Homo sapiens: one gene and its partners. The protein of the gene in region 3 interacts with the protein of the main gene of each other region in a pairwise test. Each region holds a gene or a part of one and is shown on either strand. Other genes may lie near its edges.

Region 1 (3,390 bases), on a different chromosome or scaffold from region 3:
CAATTTGGGGAGGATCTTTATAATCCAAGTCTCTTTGTTCTTCAGCTCTAGCTGCTGGAATTTATTATTCTTAGTAAAACCAGGCTCTAGTTGGTCTAGTTATTTATTCAGACTCTGAGAAAGGGGTCATCAGAGAAGCATCAAGGCACAGGAGGTGGTAAGAAGAAATGCAGGTCAGATTTAACGACATGCCTAGTGCCTTCTGGACTGAACATCTGCTACACTAGGAGAGTCTCCCAATTTTCTTTCCCTAAAGAAAAGCCAGATTTACAATGTGCTTCTCTGCTACTGCTATGTTTTTGCTAAAAGGATTTTTTTCTTTTCTGATTTACCCTTGCGTGGAATACAGGCCCTAAGGGCCTTGTAAATATTTAAAGTTAAAAAGCTTTTTATGGCTATGCTAGCAATGAGGTAAAAAATAATGGAGAAATAAGCAAAATGGGCTCCTATTCAACTTTTATGATCTTATTCCTAAGGCACTTATGCTGGGTGGAAGCCAATGACTGTTCACAAACCACTTTTAATCAAATTGGGCTTTAGAGGAAAATTAAGACATATAATCTACCATTTAAAAATTTTAAAAAAAATTGGGCAAAAAATGTAATATTTAAACTGATAAATATAAAAGTGTTCAAGAAACATTCGAACATATAATCTTTCAAAAGCTGACGATTTTTAATTTAACAGAAAAGAAAATGAAATTAATTTTTATAAAAATGATCCAAGTGTTCAATGCACAAATTTTTCTCTCAAACAGCAGAATAAGATGCACCCAGGAATTCTCATATACCGCAATAGAATGAAGAAACAGTACTTTCAGAGAATTATCTTTAGGTGAAGAAATTCAAACTGTCAAGAGTAATATACTGTACATAAACATATACATAAAAAGTCTAAAAACCAAGCTGTGACAAGGGACCTAGAACTGAAACAAAATTTGAGAAAAACTTACTTAAAAGCATTTGTTTCCTGTAATCTCTACAAATAATTTTAGAAGCAGAGATTTCTGCACTCAACTGTTATGACTAATACAACCAAAAACTTCACTTAATGGCATTTTGTGTAATGGTGCCGATATCCTTGGTGTATTAATTTTTTGACTTATTTCCTTTTTCTTTTTCAAATTCAGCTATCTGATTAAATATATTCAGTAAATTCTGAGGTAAATTTTTCTTAACACTGCTTTCTGAGTGTTCTTTGCTACTTAGTGCATCTTCTTCTGGAACCTCTGTTTTGATATCCTCCCCATAATTGTCCTCTCTTTCATATTCTCCTTGATTTGTATTTAAACGGTATCTTTGCTCATGTCTACTGAAATCACGTGATCCAGAGTGAGCGTATTTTTTGTATTTCTCAACTGACTTCCAAGAGTATTCTGAGCTTGCTGGTGAGGTAGAATGCCTCACAGAACCTGGTTCCCACCTTCTATAGTGCTCTTTTCTTCCCTCTATATCCTTTTCAAATCTCCTATAACCATAAATCTTGTCCTCTGAATTCCTACAGAAGGAATCTGAGGAATTTCTTCTACTGGAAAAATGTCTTTCTGATTTATATGGCTTTTCTGTTTTGCTACTACCTGCTTGGGTTTTATAGCTGTTATAAAAATCTCTTGGATCTTCAGACCTACCTCCAAAATCATCCGGTATTTCAAGTGAAGATGAAGAGAGAGGGCATCTATCTTTCTCTTTTATCTGTGTCTTTTCATACTGTAACCTATCCTGCTTCCCCAGTAGTTTCTCCACTTCTTGTTTATGGTTAAGAAAAGATGCTGAAGTATTAGCTGGAACTGGGTAGCACTCATCTTTCCTATTCTGATCTATCTGATTTGAGGATGCCCTAGATGAATGCCTTCTGGAACTGCGAGAAGACTCTGAACGGTTCCTCTTATGTTTCTTATGCCTTTTGTGACCAGAAGAGGAAGAGGATGATGATGAAGACACTGATTCATCAGCAGAAGAAACACTTGAAGAAGAAGTTGATTTTCTTCTTTTCTTCTTTAGCCTAAAAAAAACAGTTCATTTGTCATATATATACAAAAATGTTTCTAAATTATTCATAAAGATGTGGGCCCTATTTGTTTCCTTTAAAGATTTTATAAAAGCTGTGGTTCAGATAAATGATACAATAATCTCGGCTACTACAAGATCTAATTTTACTATTAAGCACTTTTGGGGGAAAAAATGCTTGCAGACAGGTATCATTGTAAGCAAATCCATCATCTCTGAAAGACAGACTTTTTTCAACACTACCTTAAAAACTTAAGACTACTGAACACATAAAGGAGAACTCAACTTTTTTATTTGGCTACCTCTAGTTCATGGTTTCTTCACCTGATTATTGGTATTTTCAGCCAAATAATTCTTGGTAGGGGGTGGGGGTGCGGGTGGGAGCTGACCTGTGCATTACAGAATGTTTAAGAGCATCCCTGACCATTATACACTAGATGCAGTAGCACCCTATCAGTTATGGCAATCAAAAATGTCTCCACATCTTGTCAAATGTCCCCGGGTGAATAAATCCACCCCTAGTTGAGAACCACTGCTCTAGTTCTAAAATATTTCTTCCTAAAACATAATTAAAGTAACTTATTCTATATTTTAATTCTAAGATACTCTTTTTTTGTAGAATTCTAGCCTTAAATTCCACTTCATCTCTTTAATAAGAAAATACATGGAACACATATTTGCTAAAGATTCTTAACAGTCACTGATTGGCACTTGAAATACTTTCATATTTTTATTTACTTTACCTCCAGTATGGCACTTTGGGTTCAATTCAGTAGTTGCCTTAAGTTTAAAAATACTGAATATTATAGTTTACCTCTTCTCTTCTTTTAAGAGCTTACGCAACTTTTCTGCACTTGTTTCTATTTTCTTTGTTTTCTGCTTTTCTTCCTTTTCAGCTTGTTTTTCTCTTAATTCCAAAGATTTCTTTTAGAACCCAGATATCGAAAAAAACCACACGTTAAAAATAGCAGAATATATAAAACCCAGTATTCAAAAGACCACCCCCAACGAGAAACCCAATTTAGTAAAACCAAATCACCATAGAGCCAGCATTAAACAGTATTTTTTTAACATAAAAAAATTAGTCATACAGATGTTTGGCATTAGTCATTGAAATGGCCAGAACAGCATTGAGGACCATATTGCAGTTGGTATCCCATAAAAAAAGGGGAAGCCATTGCAGTGGTACCCATGACCCAGAGTGCAAGAAAGGTTAAAAAAAAAAAAAAAGTACATAAAAATTATTTTTAAAGATTGAAAAATTTAAACAGGACACATTTTACAAATAAAATTCAAATAAAGACATTCCGTTAAGGTGAAGTGAAGGAGGAATCACCATGTTCAAATACAAACCATTTAAAAAAATAGCACAGCCCAGTTGGAT
Region 2 (3,656 bases), on a different chromosome or scaffold from region 3:
CGAGGGAGGTTACCAAAATTAATCTCCAGCTGGGATGTGATGTCATTGGCGGGTTTCCGGAAAACATGGGAATCGTCCTCATAGTCATCTTTTACCATCTGAAACACAATTACAGCATCAAACACGCACAAGTCCACAGCCATCCCCACACTCATCTGGCTTAGTGGCTGCAGTGTGCTACACAGGAGCTAAAACACCATCAGGGGCTAGTCAGAGCCATTCTCTGGATTTGTCTCTGGCCCTGGGCTGCAGAGCTGGACAAAGGAAGACAGCACTGCTGTTCTGATTCTAAGACAGTGAGTTCTGTATGTTCTAGAGTCCCACATTCTTGCAATTACAATCTTAATCCAAACATCTTTGAACTTATTATGATTTCAAGTGGGACCAAATTTCTATCAGCTGAGCAGGTTAAGATATAAGATTTGGCATGACTAATAATAGCAAACAATATACATGTTTTATATCTAAGTGTATTTTGCTGAGATAAAAAAGTTTTCATTTCTGCTTATTTTCTGTCTTATCTGTTCACAAATGCTTTGATAAATAAGGAAATATCCCCTTCCCAGAACAGAACTTAACAGAGAAATTCCTTTCAGCATGGGTGCTGATTATAATACCATGTGCTAAAAATCACATGATTTATAATAAACAATTCTGACTCAAAATATAGAGAAACTTTATAAAAACAAGAGTATGGTTACCTGAGTGTTCTACCAACACTGCACAAAGAAGTCAAGCTGCTTTTTAAGAACTGCTTTCATTAAAATTCTATCTCTTGTGACAGCTATATTAAATAAATTAATTAAATCTGATCCAAATTTGATTTGGCTTCAACTCATAATAATGGGTATCACACACACACACACACAAAAACCCCACTTTAAGTAAAGTAAAAACCTACAGAAAGGAAGATATGTCAGTGATTTCAGATGAGAATCTCCAAAGTGCTACAACATTAAACATTCCTACAACCAGGAAATGGAGCAAAGTTTCCACGAGCATATCAACACCTTTAGGCCATATGCTCATGACAGCCTTCATGTTTAACATTTGTGTCCCCTTTGAGGTCTCAGGTTAAAATAAAGCAGAGGCTTTAGGTAGTTGGATGCTTAATGCTAAAAAGGTGAAGAAAAACAGTCCAGGAGCACTGGCATTCTGTAAAAAGATACACACAAAAAATAGTAACAGGCAAAATACTCAACCCTTGCCTTGTTTGGCACTCAGCAGGGAAGCGCTGGTAAGGTCTCCCTGGGGTCCCTGCTCTGAGTCGCCTCCCACTGCAGGAAGGGGCAGGAAGGGCCTCGGGGCAGTGGAGCAGGGAGTGGACACAGTCTAAGGCTTGGGCTCCACTTGCAGCTCCAGCTGGCCCTGGCCCAAGTGCTTTCACCGCCCAGTGCCTTACGCGAGGTTGTTACTAGGTCTGAACTTTGCTAGGTATTCTAGTGCTTCTGCCTCTTCAGGTGTCCAGAACAAAGTAAACTGATGAACCCAAGATCTGGCTTGTGTTGCTTTAAGAACAATTCCTAGCTAAAATCTTCAATCCTCCAAGATTAACAAGGACCAAGATGTGTGCTTCACTGAGACCAGGCTTGATGACTCAGCTAACCCACTTGCTTCAAATATTCTGGGAGACCTCTGGAGCCCGGGAGGACAAATCTGGTGTGGATTAAGAAAGAGCAGCTTCTATTTTTACCTAACATGTCAGCTGCATATTTCAATCCTGACAGCACATTTGTTTTAGAGAAATTTTTATTTACAATGCCTAGAACAAAAAAGAACAAAGGAAGTGGACAGGTTAAGAACCAACCCAGCTTGCTAATGGAGTTAGAAAACACCTCCCAGAGATTGCCAGGGAAATAAAGCTCCGGCCGCCTATGTCTACAAAAAGCCATTTCTTGTGGAACAGCTCAAAACTCAGTAAGGCCTCCTACAGCTTGGACTGACCAAAACAAGAGGATGGGAGAGAATCCTGTATCTTTTTTTTTGTTTTGTTTGGAGACGAAGTCTCACTTTGTTGCCCAGGCTGGAGTGCAATGGCGTGATCTCGGCTTGCTGCAACCTCTGCTTCCCGGGTTCAAGCGATTCTCCTGCCTCAGCCTCCCGAGTAGCTGGGACTACAGGCACCCGCCAACCGCCCGGCTAGTTTTTGTATTTTTAGTAGAGACAGGGTTTCACTATGTTGGCTAGGCTGGTCTCGAACTCCTGACCTCAGGTGATCCACCTGCCTTGGCCTCCCAAGAACCCTGTATCTTAAATGACACCTAATCAAAGTACTCACTCAGAAAATGAAACTAACCAAAGTGTAAATGACAACTCTACAATAGCATAACATTCCTGAGATTCCACATGAAAATCAATAACTAATACCCCACAGAGAGGAAGAACCTGCTACCTGCTCACTCCCACCTCGAAATAGTGACTGGTATCAAGCTGTAGATGGAATGATACAGATTCTAAATCCCATAATGGGAATGCTTCAGTGGACCTAGCCTTAAGTTCAGTAACAAGTCGGGGACTTGATGACCCCATGGCATCCCTATCAACATATGCTGCTAGATGTTTCCCCGAAACCTCTCCCTGCAAAACTGAAGCTTCTGAGAAGAGCTGGACGTAAGCCGTGAGCAATAAGGCCTCACAACACGGAGGAGCTCCCTGAGCAACCCCTGCAGCACGCTGGCCGCTGTGGCAGTGCCTGACCGAGCAGCCAAGCGTTCGGGGACTCATCTCCCGCCACGTCTGCAGTTAGGCAGGGGGCGCAAAGCTGCTGAACCAACATGGGAAAGGCGTCAGAAGTGCATGGAACCTCAACCACAGTTTAAAAAGTCATCAACTACTCGGCCAGGTGCAGTGGCTCACGCCTGTAATCCCAGCACTTTAGAAGGCTGAGGCTGGTGGATCACCTGAGGTCGGGAGTTCAAGACCAGCCTGACCAACATGGAAAAGCCCCGTCTCTACTAAAAATACAAAATTAGCCGGGGTGGTGGCGCATGCCTGTAATCCCAGCTACTTGGGAGGCTGAGGCACGAGAATCGCTTGAACCCGGGAGGCGGAGGTTGCGGTGAGCCAAGATCGCGCCACTGCACTCCAGCCTGGGCAACAAGAGCGAAACTCCATCTCAAAAAAAAAAAAAAGTCATCAACTACTCAGTGAAATGCTCTTATCAAGAAACAGAGTTGAAAGTAACCTACTCAGGGGACACAGAGTGTAGTTCTCCTTTGATTAACTCTGAATTGTACAAGACACAATCTGTAACTCTCCCTTGAGAAAAATGAAATACAGTTAATACACAGTATGTGTACAGTACCCGCATAGTCCCAGGGTGAGCAGAAGATGCACTGTCACTCTAACTGCTCTGTGCATCTGTCAATACCTCAAGTTTCAATTCCTTTTCTTAATGAACAATACAGTAAAATTAGGCATGCATCATCTCTGATTAGAAACAAAGACTGCCAACTACTAATGTTCCATTTTCAAGACAGAAGTGGAAAGGTACATTTCACTTCCAGTAAGGTAAAAGTAAAGATTACCTCTACATACGAAATGCAATGCTTACATCATCTCTGTATTTTGACTTGTGAATCACCACGGCTTTGGAAGGAACAGTGGATTCTGGTTTCCGGATGTTAAACTCAGGCTTTGGTCTGGTCTGTTCTTGA
Region 3 (3,656 bases):
GCTCAGAAGGGGCTTGAATGGTGGTCTCTTGCCATTACTTGCCTTCAAAGTGAAGTTAATATGGAGGATGAAAGTATAATGCAGCACAGTTCTTACGCATACGTGAATGAGCAGACTAAGGTCACGGGAAGAAACTCAAGGAAGGTTTTTTTGAATTGCAAGAGACAAAAACTCTTAGCACATAAAGCCTGTGCGTTATAAGCAGGATACGTCTTGGTGGAGCTGCTGTGCGTAGGAGCATTGTTCTTAGCTTTCAGTGCATAGAAACTCAGTTTTATACTTTGACTCAGGAGTGGTTGACTGATGTATACTAACCAAACTTACACGGCTGTTGACTGATTTTTTTAAGCAAATGTATAGAAATTGGCTTATTATTTCACACTGAGAGCAATATATTAGGCATACTAACAGGTTCTGAACATTTTTATAGGATACTCAGTCTCTGCAATAAAGGATAGTACTAATTATAATAAATTACATTTTTGATGCTTTACATTTTCTAGATTTTTCATTCAAAAATACTACTTTGTAAGAATAGAATTTGAGCAAATCTAGTTGGATACTCTGCTCCAGGATTATATTCATCACTATAACTAGGGCTGACAGTCTATGGCAGGGTGTCCAGTCTTTTGGCTTTCCTGGGCCACATCGGAAGAAGAATTGTCTTGGGCCACGTACTACAGTGGAGCACACACAATTGTGAATCTGTTGGTTCACATTGTTGGCCTGAAGCAGTGCTGGGCCTGCGTAAAATACACTAATGATAGCCAATGAGGTTTAAAAAAATGTGAAAAAGTGTCTTAATGTTTTAAGAAAGTTTACAAATTTGTGTTGGGCCACATTCAAAGCCATCCTGGGCCACATGAGGCCCATGGGTTGGGCGAGCTGGATCTGTGGTTTGTGTTCTCTATAATCAGCCTTGCTTTTTGTGTATCATTAATTACCAAAAACTTCCTTATCACTATGTTACAGATAGAGAAATGAAGAAACAAAGAGATAAATAATTGAATCTTATTAAGATTAAGGTAGTAATTGACAGAATTAGGATTTGAATCAGGAAGCTAGGTGATATGACACTAGAGTCCATGCTTTTGTTAGTTTCATCTTCCCCGTGTTATAGGTATTAAAATAATGTTAAGGTATTAATTAAGCTATTTAAGGAAATGTAAAATATCTCATTAAAGATCAGTGAGTCTTCTTAAAGTTAAGACTTACATTCTTTAAAGTATATTCCAGTTATGAAAATATAAAGAATTAGAAAATAACCTTTGAAAAAAGTGAACTCTTATTTTCTTCTTAATATATCAGGACAGTTGAAGATGACTTACTGCTCCAAAAACCATTTCAGAAAGAAAAACATGGAAAGGTGGCCCATAAACAAGTTGCAGCAGAATTGCTGGATAGGTATGGTATTTCAGTGTCAATTCTATTTCTTGGTTTAAGTTGCTTCGGATTAGGGGATTTGATTATGTTAATTTGAATATAAACATTTTGAATTTTCTTAAAAAAATTTGTTTTAACAGGGAAGAAGCAAGAAATAGAAGGTTTCATCTCATAGCTATGGATGCTGTATCCTTTTTTTATTTCCAGATTTTTATAACTAGTAGAATATTTTAAAATCTGCTTTTTTGTTTTATAAAATCTTGTGAAGTCAAATAGGCTTTTTTATTTTTAAAGATAAGTATTTAGTGATGTAGGATTTTGCCATTTATACTTTTGGGTACAATTCTCTTTTACTAATATATAGGAAAGATTTAGAGACAAAAATAATAAAACATATTACTAGTACTCTATAAATAGGTTTATAAAGTACATGAATCTGCAAATATATTTTCCAAATTGTTTTTTCAAGCTTTCAACATTTCCTTTTCCTATACTTATCTTTAGTCTCATTTTAATTTATTCTCTTCCTACCTGGTTCTTTGCTATTTAAGGTCTCTATAAAACTTGTATTTAAAATTAGGTCTATCCAGTCTGTCCCTGGATCTAAGGAAAAAATAAAAATAAAATGAGGCCTGCCTGTGGACTGTCCTCAGGCCTGCCATGGCTTTAATTTTTAGGCATGACTTAAAGCTATCTTTAAGATAAACCCTGCTTCCTGGTTATAGCCATTTGTCAACTCAGTTTTTTAATAAGACTGGCTGATGACACTAACTGCTACGCTGGCCATCCATACTGCTGTTGAGAATATTGGAGAATTTAAGAGATACCAAGCAAAAACTGAAGTATTTTTGGGTATTTATTGCTGTGATCAGAATTGGGAGAAGGAGACAGTGTCAATTTGATACGCCCCCTACCTGTAATCATCTGTTTCACTGTGCTATTCCAATATTTTTCTTTTAAGTTATAGAAGTACCATTGTGTCACTAATTGATTTATTCTTCTTATCTCCTAACCCAATAGCTAGCTTTTCCATGGATCTCATCTGCCATTTGTTCCTTTAGCATTTAAACATTTGCTCTGCCTTCTCTGACACCTACTGCATTGGGGGCACCTAGTTATAGCCTGGTGAGAGTGAAAGTATGGGTACTCTTTTTTCTGGCATAGGAGGAGTTGGAGCCACAGTTTTTTTTGTTTGTTTGTTTTTTGTTTTGTGTGTGAGGATTTATTTTATTTTATTTTTCTTTATTTTATTTTATTACTTTAAATTCTGGGATACATGTGCAGAACGTGCAGGATTGTTACATAGGGTATACATGTACCATGGTGGTTTGCTGCACCTATCAACCCATCACCCTCACCCTTCCCCGCCCACCGGCTCCAGTGTGTGATGTTCCCCTCCCTGTGTCCATGTGTTCTCATTGTTCAGCTCCCATTTATGGGTGACAACATGTGGTGTTTGGTTTTCTGTTCCTGTGTTAGTTTGCTGAGGATGGTGGCTTCCAGCTTCATCCATGTCCCTGCAAAGGACATGATCTCATTCCTTTTTGTGGTTGCATAGTATTCCATGGTGTATATGTACCACATTTTCTTTATCTGGTCTATCATTGATGGACATTTGGATTGGTTCCATGTCTTTGCTATTGTGAATAGTGCTGCAATAAACATACATGTGCATGTATCTTTATAATAGAATGATTTATATTCCTTTTGGTATATACCCAGTAATGGGATTGCTGGATCAGATGTTATTTCTGGTTCTAGGTCCTTGAGGAATTGCCACATTGTCTTCAATAATGGTTGAACCATTTTACATTCCCACCAACAGTGTAAAAGTGTTCGTATTTCTCCACAGCCTTGCTAGCATCTGTTGTTTCCTGACTTTTTAATAATTGCGATTCTGACTGGGAACCACAGTTTTCTCTGGGTTGTTTGACAAGAGTAGAGTAGTTATTGTCTCAAAGTTGTCTTGCTAGGCTGACTCTTGGTCATTTGGTTAGAGAGAACAGCTTTTGTTGACGATTTTTTAGTCCGTGCCTGTTGGTGTTTCCGGGTTGTCACCTTCTTTACCTCCAATTCTAGGATACATGAGACAAAAAGAAAACCTAGGGAACTCGCTATCATGTCATACCATAGGTCTTCAGGAGGTCCCTAGCGGGGCGCCTTCTTCCTTCCACCTTTTAGAGTCTTTTTATGTTTGATATATAATGTATAAGGATTTTAGTTGTTATTAGTATGAGGAATAGGGAGAAGTACATCTTTGCCTACTCCATCTT

Evidence for each region.
Region 1: the proteins of FRA10AC1 (region 3) and TTC14 interact in a two-hybrid assay, tested with the Homo sapiens proteins (one large-scale study listed by BioGRID and IntAct).
Region 2: the proteins of FRA10AC1 (region 3) and HABP4 interact in a two-hybrid assay, tested with the Homo sapiens proteins (one large-scale study listed by IntAct).

Annotation. Positions count from the first base shown.
Region 1 is NC_000003.12:180,608,241-180,611,630, reverse strand, and holds the end of TTC14 (tetratricopeptide repeat protein 14), read right to left. Parts: exon of another isoform or gene 2,931-3,390; coding exon 2,821-2,930; exon of another isoform or gene 2,002-2,820; coding exon 1,089-2,001; 3' UTR 501-1,088; downstream 1-500.
Region 2 is NC_000009.12:96,484,531-96,488,186, reverse strand, and holds part of HABP4 (intracellular hyaluronan-binding protein 4), read right to left. Parts: coding exon 3,554-3,656; coding exon of another isoform or gene 3,530-3,553; exon of another isoform or gene 3,528-3,529; intron 99-3,527; coding exon 1-98. UniProt on the Homo sapiens protein: Ribosome-binding protein that promotes ribosome hibernation, a process during which ribosomes are stabilized in an inactive state and preserved from proteasomal degradation.
Region 3 is NC_000010.11:93,696,049-93,699,704, reverse strand, and holds part of FRA10AC1 (protein FRA10AC1), read left to right. Parts: intron 1-1,308; coding exon 1,309-1,404; intron 1,405-1,523; coding exon 1,524-1,569; intron 1,570-3,656. UniProt on the Homo sapiens protein: May be involved in pre-mRNA splicing.